Linked DNA regions of Homo sapiens: region 2 is linked to region 1. Evidence: fine-mapped expression QTL. Tissue or cell type: cerebellar hemisphere. Region 1 holds a variant in brackets; the other region holds the start of a gene. All regions are shown on one strand. Distances are between the middles of the regions.

Region 1 (2,752 bases):
GGCCAGGTCCCTAATCTCAGCTTGCTGCACCCCAGCTCTTCCTGCTGAGAAGTGACGTGGCTACTTGCACACCTCGGGGGTTTCCGGTCCGTGGTTAGCTCCTTCCCCTAACAGCATGGTGTTCACACAGGCTTTTAAACACCCAGCTGGCCCTGAAGACATCTAGTGGCCTGTAAATGTCAGAGCCCTGCTGCATCCATCGCTAGAAATCATTTCACTAATACTCTGTGCAGCAGGGAGGGAGGGAGGGCGAGCAGCTGGAGAGGATGTTCTCTGGGCTCTGTCTGCTCTTTGTCTCATTCCTCTGCCCAGCCCCATCCTCAGCCACGCCTGCGAGGGCCACCTCCTCTCACCTACATCCAGCGTCCTACCCCTTCAAACTCTGGGTCCCTGGCCACTCCTTCAGGATCCCACGGTCTGACCTGGGCTGGCCCACCTGGCAGCTGGGGAGGCCCAGCTGTGCCCCGTTCTTCCTCCCCTTCTGGTCAGGGCTAATCATGAGGCAGGATTATTGTCCAGCTCAGCCGGACCCAGAGGTCTGGCTGCCTGGAATCCTCGGCCTCCTGTGAGCTGCGTGGATCACAGTGACAGCAGTAATCCCCTTCTTGGAAAGAGCTTGGCCGTGTGCTGAGTGCTTTCCATCTATTATCCCCACAAATCTTCACAACAGCCCAGTGAGGGCGACCCTGTTAACCAATTGTACTGATGGAGAAACGGAGGCAGGTGATCACAGGGCCAGGATAAAGAAGCAGAGACAGAGTGTGTGCCTTTCACTCCCAAACCCCTTGCTTTCTCTTCTGAGATGGCAGCAGGGACACATCTCCTTCATCCTCTTCTCCACTTGTTTCCTGTGCTCTGGGAAGCCTTCTTGACCCCAGTTGGGCCAGGCCTTCCATTGCACATTCCCAGAGCACCTTCTCCTTCCTTCTCTGAACCTGTGCTGCAACGGTGGTCATTACAAAATCATCCTTTCTGCTGGCCTGTGAGGGCATGGAATTCCAGCATCTTGTTCACCTTGTCGCCATGTAGAAGGCTCAGTGACGTTGGCTAAATGAGTAAATGAATGACTGAAGAATAGGTGAGCTTCTGTGAAGGCCCTCCTTGCTCTGTCAGGGTGACAGGTGAGGAAACAGTCAGGACATCTCCCAGTTGGGCATCATGGGTTTGTTCATTTGTGTGTTAATTCTATATGCTGACCCCTGACAGCAGAGTGAAGGCAGGTGGGGGCCAACAATGAATCTGATAGGAGCTTACTCTCATGGGTTCCAGACAAGTTGGCCCCAGGTGGGAGCCCTGACCAGCCACTGCCAGTGAGATCAGGCTTTAGAAGAGGGTCAGAGGAGTCAGGAGCATCTTCTGCCTGGGGGACTGGAGAAGCTTCCTGGAGAAGTGATGCTTGAGCTAAGTCTTTAAGTTTGGGTGGAATTCAAGCACAGGAGCTGTGCGGAGGCAGCCCTTCAGGCAGACAAAGCTGAGGGAAGAGAGAGTGGCAGAGGGAAGGAGGAGGGATGGGAACGGGCCACTGAGCAGGCCA[C/T]GTTGGCTAGAATATGAGGAGCACTTCAGATAGTTAGGGATATTAGAGATATTCCAGTTGGAAGGATGGGGTGGAATCAATCTTGTAGGGCGCTGAATGTCCCTAAGACTTTTCTTGGCGAACAGGTGCAAAGTGCAAAAGTGGCATTTTGGAGGCCTTTGAATTCTCAAACTTGAATAGAAGCCAAATTTTTGGGTGTGACCAGGAGACTTCTAACTAATTAAAGTAAAACATATTTCCCAGGGCTGGCACAGTGGCTCACGCCTGTAATCCCAGCACTTTGGGAGGCCGAGGCGGGCGGATCACAAGGTCAGGAGATTGAGACCATCCTGGCCAACATGGTGAAACCCTGTCTCTAGTAAAAATACAAAAATTAGCTGGGCATGGTGGCGTGTGCCTGTAATCCCAGCTACTCAGGAGGCTGAGGCAGAATAATCGCTTGAACCAGGGAGTCGGAGGTTGCAGTGAGCCAAGGTTGCGCCATTGCACTCCAGCCTGGTGACAGAGCAAGACTCCGTCTCAAAAAACAAAAAAAACCAAAAACATATTTCCCCGAAAATGATCAGGACTAAGATCACTGAACCTTTTCCAGAAGGTTGGGAGCTGTCTCTGAGGCAGGTGGTGCTGTTCATGTGAGCATGAACTGATTACCTGGTCCTAGGCTCATGTAGACAGTGTGGGCTTTTCCCTTTGGCACCCCAGCCCAGCAACTCCAGCCCAACAGGTCTGGCCCAGGGCTCCTGCCCTGTGGGGACAGTCTGAGGTAGAGTGACCAGCTCCTCCCAGTTTACCCAGGACCACCTGGAAAGTCTCCTGTCTTAGGAAACCACTCAATCCCAGGAAAATCAGGGCACTCGGTCACCCTCATCTGAGATCCTGTCTTGCCGGCTGGTGGGCTGTGCAGCTGGCTCACCCTGCAGGCTCTAGGCAGTTGGGAAGAGCAATATTGCTCCCAGAAGCTCCTGGTCTGATGGGAGGTGATAGAGACATCCAAATCCAAGTGACAGATGCTCACTTAGACCCTGTTACAGTTCACATGACGGACACAGAGGCTGCGTCTCTCTCCACTGCCATACACCAGCTCCCAGACCCCATCTCCTTTGTCTCCAGGACGTCTCTGCCCACTTCCCCTGGACAGACCTGCCTCGTGTTCCACCTGAACTGGCTCAGGGCTCTGCAGAACAGGCCCTGACTGGGCCTTTCCCTTCAATTGTAGTT
Region 2 (2,618 bases), 130 kb after region 1:
GACACCTAGCAAGAGAGGGCTGGAGTAAGATTTGCACTGTGGCCCGCCAGGCTCTGAAGCCTGCGTACTTTGTGTGTGCCACACATCTCCAGCGGTGGTGGGATGAGAAGAGAAGACCTGGGATAAGGACAATGCCTGCCTCAGTTCCCCACTTCCCTCCAGCCATTGAACCCTCCTGAAGTCAAACTCAGGCAGTTTCTTCCAGGCTGTATCTCCCCGACCCTGCTGCCACCGCCCCGCCACCACCCCGCCCAATCCTAGGAACCTGGTCACTTGGTTTAGTGAGGGGAGACTCCCTGTCCCTATTGTGGCTTGAGGCAAGATTCTTAACCTCACTTTCCTCATCTTTAAATAAGGAGAGACTAGTATCTTCATGCCCCGCCAATCCCGTGAGATTTAAATGAAATATTGAGTGCAGGGGGCTTCCCGCAGTGGCCTTGCCCATGGGAGGGGCTAGGTCACTAGGCGATCTAAGGCACCGCAAGGATGTTCCCGGGGGTCAGAGGGTCCCGGCCCGCCCTCCCTGGATTTCTCGTTGATGCTTTCCTCTTCCCCCTTAGTCCCGCGAACACACACACACACTCAAGGGTCTATGTACCGTCCCCTCCTCCGAGGGTCCCCAGGACAGGCCCGGCCGCACCAGCCTCTGCCCCCAGCCCAGTGCCAAGCCTCGGACACCCGGCCGGGGAGGACCACCCCAGTCCTGCTCGAGAAACAGCCGTCGGCTCAGTGCACCCTCGGCCTCCTGCCCCAAAGGTGCAGCCCGAGAGTCCCATATCCGCGGGCAGCTAGTCCTGGGGACAAGGAAGAACCAGATCCTGGCACTGTCCCCCGGGCTACCACAGCCCCTACACCAACTCTGCCCTCGGGGCGAGCACTACCCTCTCCAGCTGCAAGGGCCCTACCCCGCGGGCGGACCCAGCCTCCCTCCCGTCCCGACGCTGTTCCTCGGGGTGAGCACCAGCGTTTGTCCCATCCCGACGCTGCCCCCCGGTGAGTGCGGCCCCCGCACCCAGCCAGTGCAGCCCTAAGGGCGAACGCGGCCCCTCACCCCATTCTGCGCGCCCAGCCCGGGCGCCCGCTCAGGCCGCTCCCCAGCCCGGCCCGCGCACCCCGGAAGTAGGAGGGTGGCCCCCGAGGAACCGGGCCCGGGACCCTCTCCTGTCCGGGCTCAGCTTCGGGGGGCTCCCGACACCGGCGCCGCCCTGGCTTGCGCCCCCCTGGGCCCGCGCCGGGCTTACCTGTCCCGCCAGGTGAGCCGCCTCCGGCTCAGCCCCTCCCCCGCCCCCTCGCCGCTCACCTGGGGCGCAGGTGAGCGTCTCGCGGGAGCGCTGCACGGGCCGCCGCTAGGGACACACTTCCTGCCTCCGCGAAGCGCTACCGCGCACCTGGACCGAGGCCCCGCCCCGGGGCTCTGCAGAGCTGCGCGTCCCCGCTCGAGTGCTCGGCCCGTTCAGCCTAGTCCGGGTAGGTGAGGTGTGGCGGGGAGGGGTCGAGAGGCGCTGGGGCTCAGTCTCCTCTTCTGTTCAACAGGCTGGTGGTCCTGTCAGTCTCTGAGCACCTGTGGAACTTCTGCCCGGCCGTAAAGCTCCAACTCAAAGGGAAGCTCTCTTCTGGGAAGCTTTCCCTGATCCTGTCTGTTTTTCTGTTGGTTAGAACAGTCCCTGTACTCAGCACACTGTCGTTTTGTTGTCTTCTGTCTCCTCCTTTAGCCTCCTACCTTGCAGGGTTTGGTCTTGTTCCCCTGTGTTCCTGGTGCTCAGCACAGGTCCTGGCACATACTAGGTGTTCAACAAATATTTTCCACTGAATGAGGCCCTGGGCCCCAATTTCTCCCTTTGCCCTGAGGCAGAACTGGGAGCCTGGGCCGCTGATCAGTTTACCTTTTCTTTTGTTCAGAGAAATCTGCAGGTAAAGACAGGAACCTCAGCTCTGAGGCCCCGAGTAGGGTAGAGGAGGGGGACCGGATATGCAGCTCTGAAAGATACATCCAGGATCAGAAGTGGTGGCCAAAATGGGCCATGGTCACTACATCCAAAAAAGGTCTCTGCAAGAGGCAACACCATTGAATGTCAATAAGGCAAGGCTCAGACTATTCTGGGTTACTGTTCCCCTTAATATTAATAACAACTCAATAACTTAACAATAGCATTAATAAACAAGTGACTTGGCCGGGCGCAGTGGCTCATGCCTGTAATCCCAGCACTTTGGGAGGCCGAGGCGGGAGGATCGCGAGGTGGGAGTTTGAGACCAGCCTGGCCAACATAGTGAAACCCAGTCTCTACTAAAAATACAAAAAATTAGCCTAGCATGGTAGCAAGTGCCTGTAATCCCAGCTACTCGGGAGGCTGAGGCAGGAGAATGGCTTGAACCCAGCAGGCAGAGGTTGCAGTGAGCCGAGATCGCGCCATTGCACTCCAGCCTGGGCGACAGAGCGAGACTCTGTCTCAAATAAACAAAACAAACAAACAAACAAGTGACTTTTAGGGAGCATCTCCAGGAGCCATGCATGCCGAAGCCGTTAATCTGTGAAGTGGGTCAGGTATTATCATATCCATTTTACAGTAAGAGGAAACTGAAGCTTAGAGAGGGGACATTGTTTGCTCAGGCAGTTGGCA

Direction of the effects. Alleles are on the strand shown, and positions count from the first base shown. SD is a standard deviation of normalised expression in the study named.
For the expression in cerebellar hemisphere of the gene that starts at base 1,360 in region 2, T is the high allele of the variant in region 1 and C is the other (small effect, 0.32 SD a copy in GTEx).

The links. PIP is the estimated chance that this variant, and not a neighbour inherited with it, causes the effect.
Region 2: it holds the start of KDF1, and the variant in region 1 is fine-mapped to the expression of KDF1 in cerebellar hemisphere (GTEx, PIP 0.99).

The regions. Positions count from the first base shown.
Region 1 is chr1:26,833,645-26,836,396 of GRCh38, forward strand. The region is part of intron 2 of ZDHHC18 (zDHHC palmitoyltransferase 18); the gene reads left to right. Among named protein-coding and RNA genes, the nearest start is that of ZDHHC18, 8.3 kb to the left of the region's middle. RefSeq lists an enhancer at 85-184. The variant C/T (reference allele first, on the strand shown) is at 1,535.
Region 2 is chr1:26,959,109-26,961,726 of GRCh38, forward strand. KDF1 (keratinocyte differentiation factor 1) reads right to left here and starts at 1,360. Exons shown (of 4, transcript NM_152365.3): 1 at 1,242-1,360. RefSeq lists an enhancer at 798-1,480 and a silencer at 2,350-2,618.